Linked DNA regions of Homo sapiens: region 2 is linked to region 1. Evidence: fine-mapped expression QTL. A gene starts in region 1. The other region holds a variant in brackets. All regions are shown on one strand. Distances are between the middles of the regions.

Region 1 (5,386 bases):
GGTCCAAAGTGGTATGTAGCAAAATTATTGGGGTTATGAAGAATGAACTGTCTGCTGTCTGCTGATTATGAATTCCTTGAGTGGAGGAACAGATTTTAATAATGGAAGTGGCTCAAACTCCAGGGAAGATGGATAGCCTGTGGTTATACTTGGTCTAAAGGAATTGGCAGAAACAGAGAGGAAGGACAAAATGTCATAGGCAATCATCATATGGATTTTAATATTTAAAAACTAAATAGTTATTTAGTCACTAAAAGCTCTATTTGTGAGCACTCATTTATCTAACAAATATTTATTAAGTGTCTACTGCATGCCTGGCATTGTGTTAGGAGCTGGACGAATGTGCAAGATAGAAATAGGTGCCTGCCCTCTTGGAGCATACATTCTAGTGTTGCTAAAGTTTATTGGATTTACAGGGATCAGTCTGTCAGCCAGCAAATACTTACTGAGTATTTGCTGAGTGCCAGACACGCAGAATACTATAATAAACTAAACAAACATAGTCCATACTCTCATAGAGTTTGCAATCTAGCAGAAAAGGCAGATTTAATTGAATCACCGCATTTAACTGTATTAAATACATTATGGTGTGCAAAAGGCTGGGAAGGAGAAGTACAGGGTTCGTAACAGAATTGAGGCAGAGTTTCCCCCCTCTAGTCTGGGTGAAAAAAATTTTCTCCCCTAAACTTTTCTCTGAGTTAAGAGATTGAGGTAAGTACAAACAGAGCTTGAGATAGCCAGTGGCCCCGGTCAGGTCACCAGCAGAATAAAGAACAGAATTAGGAGCACCAGGAGGTGATGTTGTCAGTTGCATTGCTGAGCATTCTTTTTGACTCCTGGTTGGCTTACTATGCCTGTGGATCTCCTGTATGGTTTGGCTACACAAAACAGAGTGAGAACTGTTGAACTGCTTTTAACCATAGTAAAGTATTCTGGAATTAGTTTTGTCTTCTGTCTAGTCAAGCACTATAGCAAACACTCTAACACTCCCATGGGGCCAAGAAGCTGCTAGAAACACAGGTTGTGGGATCACGAAACAAAGCAATGATACAACTAACCCATTGCAAGAACATTTTCCCCCTAATGAGGTCATTGGTTCTGAGCAGAAAGAAGTTAGAAGCCAAGAGAATATAGAGAACTTATGGGAAACATATGTGTCTCACAGATAGAAACTGGGACTCCTATATAATTATAATGCACCCTGGGAACAAATAAAATGAGTTGTTTCAAACCATGGTTGCGTTACACATTCTTTAGTGGGGACACTGATGTGTGGGATTCTGAACTTCTCACCCTCTTAATCATAAGGGGCCTGGATTATGCCTGGAGGACTTCCATTTTCTAGCACTATCAGCAGACATACAACGGGTACATAATAAAGACTAGTTGAATTATTATAGGTTTGTTTCCATTTGCTACCTGTTTCCCTGAAAGATAAGAAAAATATAGAATTATTTAATGACAAGCAAAGGAAATGTACAAATAAGTGAATTTAGAACTTTGAAGTGATTCAGTTAAAATGTTGAAAAGAAGTAACAAAAATTTAGCTTCTGCTTATACAAGCACAAATTTGTTTTTCTGTCCAGAGAAATGCCTATGACTAAAAGCCATATTTCACGGCATCTTCTTAAAGTCGAGTAGGTCTGAAACCATAGGAAGCCAAGAAAATTAGAGAAGGACAAGGCTGGGAAGTTAGAATATAGGAGAGTTACAGCTTTAGACCTCCTGGATTCATAATCTCAGCTCTACCACTGATTAGCTGTGAGACTGTAGCCAAGTTACCCAACCTCCATTTCCTCTTCTATAATGTTGGTACCTGCCTCAAAGTCATCATCTGCGTTATTGCGCTTAGCACAATTTCTGGCACATAAGTGCTCCACACATGTTAGTTTTTATTCCAAATGATTTTTAAGATGATCTCAATTTCCTCTATAAGGCTTTTTTTTTTAATAAACATGATTTGTTGAATGAATAACTGAAGGTAAAATGTCATAACCCTGTAAGACTTTTTTATAAATATGTTCACAAATCAGAAAAAGATCCTCTCTCATGACCTGATTTTGTTTGAGATTACATGTCCACCACACGCACACAATGGGCCACTTAGTCTGGCCTCTCTGAGTGAGGAGTATCCTCCTCCTACCTACGCAAACATGAAACCTAACAGAGGATTCAGTGTTAATTTGTCTCTTAAAGACAATTCTGCATTAAGAAATGGATTACTTTGCTATAACCTCAGCATATAAAAAGTCTAAAGAATCTGTGCATTCTGAGTTTGTGTATTTTTGGTCTCAGGCTGTGATTTATCTGAAAGGCCTTGGAGAGAAAGATATAGGCCTTTACCTAGACCAAAATCAGGTTGAAACAATAAAGGTATTTTATGCTTTGTGTAAGCTGGTAAATACCATGACTTTTGGAATAACAGTCTTGCTGAAAAATTGACACACTTTTCCTTCTGGTATGTCTTTGCATAAATTGTTCCTCTTTCTGCAAGATTAACTGATACCATCTGTGAGTATTCTATCCCCACTCTCAGCTTGCATTTAAATCTGCATGTTTCCTTTCTCTGCCTCTTTTCAAAGGTGCTAGAATACAAGAGCTACCCTTAGCTAATGGCCAAACACTCCGTCTGAGTTCCCTTTCTTTTAACCCCTTGCTTCCAACTCTGCATCTAAAGGCAAAAACAATCCTCTGACTCACGGCCCTCCCCCTGCCTGTGATAGGCTGCTTGGAATAGCAACAGCCTGTGTCACCGAAAAGGGCAAAGCCTTCGGAAATAGAAACAAAGTTGGTCACAAATCACATTAGCTTTGCCCGAAGTTTTTCCCCACACTCTTCTTTAGCATGCTATTATGGGGAAAGTGACCACTCCTGGGAGCGGGGGTGGTCGGGGCGGTTTGGTGGCGGGGAAGCGGCTGTAACTTCTACGTGACCATGGTACCTGTTGAAAACACCGAGGGCCCCAGTCTGCTGAACCAGAAGGGGACAGCCGTGGAGACGGAGGGCAGCGGCAGCCGGCATCCTCCCTGGGCGAGAGGTAAAGTGAGCCTGCAGTGCTCGGGTGACCGCAGAGAAGCAAGCTGTACTCATCTCCCGAGTGTACTGTCTCTTGAGTCCCGTGTGTGTGTGTGTGTGTGTGTGTGTGTGTGTGTGTGTGTGTGTGTATGCGCGCGCGCGCATGTGGGCGCGCTGGATGAGTGGAGAGAAGGGGACAGGGTCTGGTGGGACGTGGGACAGCTCGGAGCTGTAATGTTGTGAAGATCGAAGTCTTGGTGGAACCTTATGTGCCAAGAAAATACAGGTTACACATCCACCACTGGTATGATGGGTCCCCTTGATTGTGTTTACATAATACAATGTATGGATGTTTTTCATATTGGAACGGTCCACTGGCAAAGATAGTCTCATTTGTAAACACACACAAGCACACGCTTGCTTACACTTTTTCATTTATTGTCACAAATGGACACTGTGTAACCAGTTGACATTATAACCACTGTTTTAAAAATCAGTATTTTAAACAGGCTTCATAAAATTATTAGTTATGTAATCAATGAGAACACAAACTTCCTTTTTAAATTCCCAGCACGTTTGTGATGAATTTGAGCGTTATTCAGAGCCTGAAACGCTTGCTTTGCTGGGTTCTGCCTTCTTTAAAACTGGCCTTGCAAACTGAGGTTTGTTTGCTATGATGACCTTCTGAAGGTGAAATTTGGAAAAGTTTTAATTCATTTAATGATCTTTGATAAATCAGAGGCTGGTCTTCACTTCCACATTTACAATTCCCACAAATACATTGTACGCTTTTTGCTGCCTCTTCCTGCTCATTTAGTTTGTGCTGCAAGGAATAGAAAGTAATTGTAATATGAAATGACAACAAACACAAAAAATCTTCTCTTTCCTACTACTTTCCTCAGCTGTGTATTCTTAATCAGATATTACATTCCCAAGCAGCATATAGAAATTTCATGCAAAATCCAATACACTAAATGATACAAAAGACATCTGCCTTTCTCTTGGGAATGGTCCTAATACTGACGTTTGCCTTGTGGGTTTGTCTGATCTTGGGGAATCGAACCTGTGACCCCTAACATCGAGGCATGAAGCGGCCCTCTTCAGGAGTGGAGAAGCCCTCCATCTTCCATGTCCTGATCTCTTCTCTTGCTTTCACACTTCTCGTCAAGAATGAGGCCGGGCGTGGTGGCTCATGCCTGTAATCTCAGCACTTTGGGAGGCCAAGGTGGGCAGATCACTTGAGGCCAGGAGTTCAAGACAAGCCTGGCCAACAGAGCGGAAACCCTATCTCTACTAAAAATACAGAAAAATAAAAAAATTAGCTGAGCATAGTGGCACATGCCTGTAATCTCAGCTACTCAGGAGGCTGAGGTACAAGAATCACTTGGAGGTTACAGTGAGCTGAGATCATGACACTGCACTCCAGCCTGGGTGACAGAGTGAAACTCTGTCTAACATAATAATAATAATAATAATAAAAGAATATCTGGGGTCATCTTTCAATATGGCCTGTCCTCTCCTATGCAGAAGTACCCTTTTCCCTAAGCGCTTGCTACTCATTGGCCCACAAGTTCCCTAAGAGCAGGCAAGGGAAACTTATATTTGGAGATAAAGGGAAAGAGTTGCAAAGTTCTTTTCTCCAAATTCCTGGGAACATGAGCTGCAGTCTAGACTGCAGAGCAAGCTGAGGTGGTGATGTTAACAAAAGGGCTCACTAAATACAGTCAGTGATAATGTCACAAAGAAGATGAAAAGAAACTGCCTAGGAAGAGCCTTTGTAGTAACCATTAAAAATGGACTGTTTATTTTGATATGGCTTTGAAGGTACAATGTGCTCTTAATAGCTTATATTGTACAAATTCACAATTATCCAGAAGAAAGATAATGTGTATTTACATTTGCAATAGTTGGTTACATGCACAAAATTCAACTTAAAGTGCAACTGTTTATGTTGTAAAGAAATAATAAATGAATAAGTACCATAAATTATCTTTCAAATTTAATTTTAAATTAACTTTCATTTTGTAGAAGAGAAAGCCTGAATGTTTCCTTAAAATGTCAGATGAATACAACTTTGATTTGTGCTATACATAATCTGCATTTAGATGAATGCAAACCTTTTATTTTCTACTTTTGTAAATTTTCTTAACTTATCTTAAACATCTTTTGGCACCCAAAAGCAATTATACATACATATGTATAAATGAATGCATAGTGCAGACTTGCTGTATGGTTTTCTTAAGTTACTTAAAGTCTCCATTCATTAATATTGGGATTGTATCTTCATCTATTTTATGAAGGTGTTGAGATTTAATGAGGTAATATTTGTCAAATACTCCTTTTGGCTTCTTCATATTTTCAACTTCCATAG
Region 2 (5,386 bases), 27 kb after region 1:
GTCTAGGACCAAGTAAGTACTTTATTCTTTAATGTATTGCTTTTGACCAGTCAGAGCATCCTACTGCTATAGTACCTCATGAACATAAGTGCTAGAAGGAAGACAAGGATAACATTGGTCATCTGATGTTCCTTCTAATGCAGAAAGTATGCTTGGCTTATATCTGCTTCTGAAAAGTACAGGGCTAGTATTCAACTGAAAGATAAGTTTCCCATTATCTGTCACATGAGGATACTTTAATTCCCATTAATTGAGGATGAACCAGACCTGGAAAGATATTTATTGCCCAAGGGAATTACATTGCTTTATGAAAGCAAAATTTGCTTTCATAAAATGGGTAACATTTTCCTCTATATCATCTCTGAGTTTCTTCCTATGTAGAAGGAAAAAAATCAAGGGTTTAGATTTTCTTAAAGACACAATAGTGGATGCATTCCAGTGATAGTAAAGAAGGAAGACATTATGAGCTGAGAAGGAGGATGTATTATTATTACTATTTTGAGTACATCTTATTCACTAGAGTAGCCTCCCATGGCACTTTACTCTTGTCCATTAAACAGAAGCATGAAAGTCTAGTTGCTATCATTCAACATAATACAATTTACAAGGACATAGCTATGAGGTTTTATTTTATATAACTAGTCTGCTCTAATGACAAAGTATAAACACCTCTCTTGGGCAAACTCTTTTAGAGATGGATTTACTAGAATAGGCTGTTTGTTGTAGTTCTCTTGTCTATTAGCCTCACATCTAAAGCCTGAATGTCTCTGTAGGGAGGCTGTGAAGGGTCTTTTGTACGCCTCACTAGAAAAAAAAGGAGGACTTAAAAGCTTAAAGGTAGCCTCTATTACCCCCACCTCCTACCCCATTCCTCTCTCTCTCTTTCTCTTTTATTCCTCTCCTTCCTTTCTCTTTCTTTCTAAGTCTCTCCCTCTCTATCACAAAGTTGGTTTTGAAACTTGTTGAAAAGGATCAAGGAGGCAAACAAATTGGCTCAAATAATGGGAAACATTGGAGGTTCAGGCCAATAAGAAGGTATAGGCTATGCTGAAGAAGGAATTTCATGGGGAGATGTAGGGCTCTGGTTCTAGGTACTGGACAGGGTTTCTGGAAAGAAGGCCATGTAGGGGCTTGCTTTAGTCATCCACTGCTAACTCATTAACTATTAATTCAAGCAATATGTATTGAGTGATGAATTTTTTTCATAACCAGGAACTATGCCAAATATTGGGGAAAGGATAATGACCAAGACAGACACTGTCCCTATCTTCAGGGAGATTGTAGGTGAATGGACTGAGCTATACTCTCTGTATCTGCCTCCTTCTGGTCAGCAACCAGCAGGTTTGGCCTGCTTAATCTCAATTAATAACTAGACTTGCACATGGCTGATATGTCCTCTCCTGCTCTAACTCCACCTCCTCATTTTTCAGCTTCTAATTCCACTTCTAAGGGCACTCAGTTTCTAGATATTGATTTGTTCAAATTCCAAAGAGAGAGAGAGAAGGGTTAGGTGAAATCTGATTGACGCTGCTCTTTGCTGTGCCAAGTCAGAGATGGAAGTTCAGGCCTAAACAGCTGTGGCAAGATTGGGTCATGGTCCAAGACATGGAAGACCAAGACATGGCCCTTCCTCTGCACTGTGAGTAGACATATTTCCCGCTATAAGACTGCTTGGGCAGATAGAGTAAACATTACAATACCACCAGCCTCTGATGACTCAGACCTGCTCCTGAACCTTAAACCTGCTTTTTAAGACTTAACAATGATAATTACCATTAATGAACAGTTTCCCGGAAACAGATTTCTACCATTACTTTGGGGTTCAATTATCTTGAGTGTATACCTATGAGATACTCATATGGCTACTATGACACTTTAAGCTAATGAAATTTGAGCTAACCTCTTATTTTCATTTTTATTATTTTCTTTATTTTATTTTTATTACATTTTTATTTCAAGAAACTCTTCAAAGCAGAAGGACGAGATATAGGTGCAGTCTTGTACCAAGGAACACCTTAGATTTGGGTGTGAAACTTCTCTATGTTAACAAGTACAATAAGCTTTGCTCATTTGATAAACTTCAGGTGGTAGTTACTGTTCCATTGGTTTCTTCTGCTAGCATCTCTTGTCCTTCTTGTATATTCAACATAAAACTAAAAGTATTTCCTTTGTACATCAATTTTCTTGGTCCAATTTTTTGAAATGTCAAGATTAGCTAAGAGTCTAAGAAAAAGCCACAAAAAAAGGAAGGGATACCCTCTTCTTTCTAATTCAGAAAACCTCTCAGGTTAAAAGGGTATATGTCATGGCACATATTATGATATGAGATCAATATGAGAGACATTGATCTTAGGCCTCCTGAACCAACCTACTCATGGTTAGAGTCCTTTCAATTTCATGCCACCCATCTCTCTTTAGTTTTGGGGTAATTTTGAAAAATGCAGCAAATCTTCCAGTCTCTAACACATCATTTGATACCTTATTGTATTAGAGCAAGAGTTCTCCTTTTCAGAAAACCAAAT[T/G]TGATTTTAGAAAAAATTACTGGAGGCTGGGAGTGGTGGCTCATGCCTGTAATCCCAACACTTTGGGAGGCCGAGGCTGGTGGAGTACTTGAAGTTAGGAGTTCAAGACCAGCCTGGCCAACATGGTGAAAACCCCGTCTCTACTAAAAATACAAAAAACAGCTAGGCATTGTGGCACACAGTTGTAATCCCAGCTACCCAGGAGGCTGAGGCAGGAGAATCTCTTGAACCTGGGAGGCAGAGGTTGCAGTGAGCATTGCACTCCAGCCTAGGCAACAGAGTGAGACCCTGTCTCCAAAAAAAGAAAACAAAACAACAAAAGAGAAAACATTCTGTCGGCTGGTTGTCTTTCAATAACATTCTATGCTAATTTTTTTAAAATATGGTTTAAGCTTTAGATTCCACTAATATTTATTGACACCTAGTATGTCAAATACTGTGCTAGGCAGCTTTTACGTACTTTGCAGTACTTCATTTTACCTTCAAAACAAGCCTGATAAGAAAGGATATTCACTGCATTTTACAAATGAAGATACTGAGTCTCAGAGAAATTAAGTGACTTGCTGAAATAAATGAAAACATGTTTTATCTTCTGAAATTCAACATTAATCTCAAGTCTAAGACAGGAATAGGCAGTCCTGTGTTGATCTTAAGGGTAAATGTTAATTATTTTTAGTTCATTCTTCTCCTTGAAAGTCCACTAGGAGGAAGAATGAATAAAAATAGTGTACCATTGTCCATCCATCAGGATACTAATGGACCATTGTGCATTTTGCAAAATAGAGAAATAGTCTCTGCTTTTCTGAAGCTCTGCTAAGTAAGTGAACATGTACTTTTTATAAGGCTGAGATATAGGATGAAAGAGAAGAAGGGTAATAACAAGAAGAGAGTTTTTGCTGTGCATTTACTTTCATAACTGAACGTATTGAGAAAATGCTGAATGTAGAATTCAAGCTCAGCAGATGTAACAAGGCCCAAAATAACAATGGCTTAAACAAATTAGAAGTTTCTTTCTCTCTTACTTAATAGCTGGAGTTGGGTAGTTCTGGGTGTTGTGGAGGTGCCCAGGGTCAGACACCTGAAGTCTATAGTTTTTCTATACATTATTCAATTCTGGTTTCTAGTCTATCATGATGACCATTTATATAAGATACATTTAAAAATCTCACGCATATTAAGATGCATTTAAAAATCTCATCATCATTTACTAAGAGCTAATGGTCCCTTGGAAATAAGTAAAAATGCACGAGTGCAGTCAACTAAAGGGAGATTGGGTATAGTAGGGCCTGGGTAATCTGTAGACAGCCTGAGCAATTGCAGCAGGGAATTAGGACTGCTGTGAATGATACGGCAAATCATTTCCTATAGGGATTTGGTATCGCACAATTGTAGGAGAAGCTGAGAACACAAAGGTCTAGAAGGGGACAATTGGGGAAAAAGGAAAAATTTATTAATCAAGGCACAGAGGGAAGCTGGTGAAGAAGTATGTGGAAGACTGCGGTCTTGGCATCTGGTGGTGGCCTTCTGAAGCTTCTGCTTGGCAGCAGGGCAGGCCGGAGGAAAAGCTGGACTCAAAGCAGAGGGAAGCAGAGACGACTCACTGAATCCGGTAGACAAACTGGAATCCATGGGAGGAAACTGCAGCACTCATGTCTTTCGCCACATCACTCCAGTGAGGCAGGCGACCTGCAGAAAAACTGCTGCCTTCTCCCAGAGCCCAGTCTAGTGCTTGGAGAAGTTGTAGGAGGAGATCTGGCCAAACTCGCTGGGCCCTCACTCCAACAAGGGGAACCAGTGATCGGCAGCAGGGTGCACGAGCTGCGGTGGTGGCTAGGGCCCGGCACCAATGCCTCAAGCACAGCACTGTAGGGTCACTTTGGCCTTCCAAATCATGCAAATTTCTCTTCTTTCCAACCCTAATCCAGAGCTACCCAGGGGAAGGGAATTCTGGGAAATGTCCTTCTAGCTTAGCTAAGTAACACAGCACAAAATCATCACAGTAACAGACTCTGGCCTAAGAGAGAATACACGTGACTGTGGGGGAAAAAATTTCAAAAGGTCAAGGGCCCTAAATTCAGTCCATTGCTGTGATAAACTTTAAAAATCAAAATGTTAATTATTCAAATATATGACTAGCTTCCATTCCATCTAAAATAAGAGGTGAGGTCATTTCATTAAGGTCTCCTCGCCTTCTGTTTCTTTAGCTATAAAACTGAAAAACACATTTGCTAATGCATTATAAAGGCTTTCATGCTTGTTTTCTCAGGAACGTTAATTATCTCCCTTGAGCTGATGACTCTCGCTTATTTCCAGTTCCATCGTCTCACATGATTTCTAGCTCCTTTTTTCCCAATGAGTACTAAACCTTTCCCCCTCCATGCTTCACTGTCAGCCAAACACAACAACCCCAAAGCTGAATTCCTTTTCCTCTTGTACCAGGGTTCTTTACCACTTCCATTCCCTTTCTAGAGGGCAGTCACTCTTCCTGCCACTCGGAGCGATGCTCTGGGGCTTTTTCTCAGTTCAGTCAATCATCACAACGGCTGTTGCTTTTATGGTTTCCTTCCTATATCTGCCATCCTATGCTACCTCTTATCATCTCGTTGTCAGATTACTGGGATACCCTTCCAGAAGTCATTGTCTATTCCAGGCCCTTCTCACACCCATCCATCCTCCAGACCACTGTCAACCTAAAATGAGTGACCAACTCTCCGAAGCAAAGAGTTTAATACGGAATAGCGGGGGTGTTGCAAACCTGTGATATGCATGCTGTGATGGTTCATAGACATATCTGGGGGTTGGGGCAAAGGGGGAGCTTTGAAAGACAAAAAGAATTCCACATAGACTGTAACCAAAGGTTACAA

Which allele goes with the higher level. Alleles are on the strand shown, and positions count from the first base shown. SD is a standard deviation of normalised expression in the study named.
For the expression in cartilage of the gene that starts at base 2,791 in region 1, allele T in region 2 goes with a lower level than allele G (large effect, 1.1 SD a copy in Steinberg 2020).

Evidence for each region. PIP is the estimated chance that this variant, and not a neighbour inherited with it, causes the effect.
Region 2: its variant is the best candidate, but not a certain one, in a credible set for the expression of SLC2A12 in cartilage (Steinberg 2020, PIP 0.53).

What each region holds. Positions count from the first base shown.
Region 1 is chr6:134,050,029-134,055,414 of GRCh38, reverse strand. SLC2A12 (solute carrier family 2 member 12) reads left to right here and starts at 2,791. Exons shown (of 5, transcript NM_145176.3): 1 at 2,791-3,037. The coding sequence starts at 2,935.
Region 2 is chr6:134,023,007-134,028,392 of GRCh38, reverse strand. SLC2A12 (solute carrier family 2 member 12) reads left to right here. Exons shown (of 5, transcript NM_145176.3): 2 at 1-12. Among named protein-coding and RNA genes, the nearest start is that of SLC2A12, 27 kb to the left of the region's middle. The variant T/G (reference allele first, on the strand shown) is at 2,523.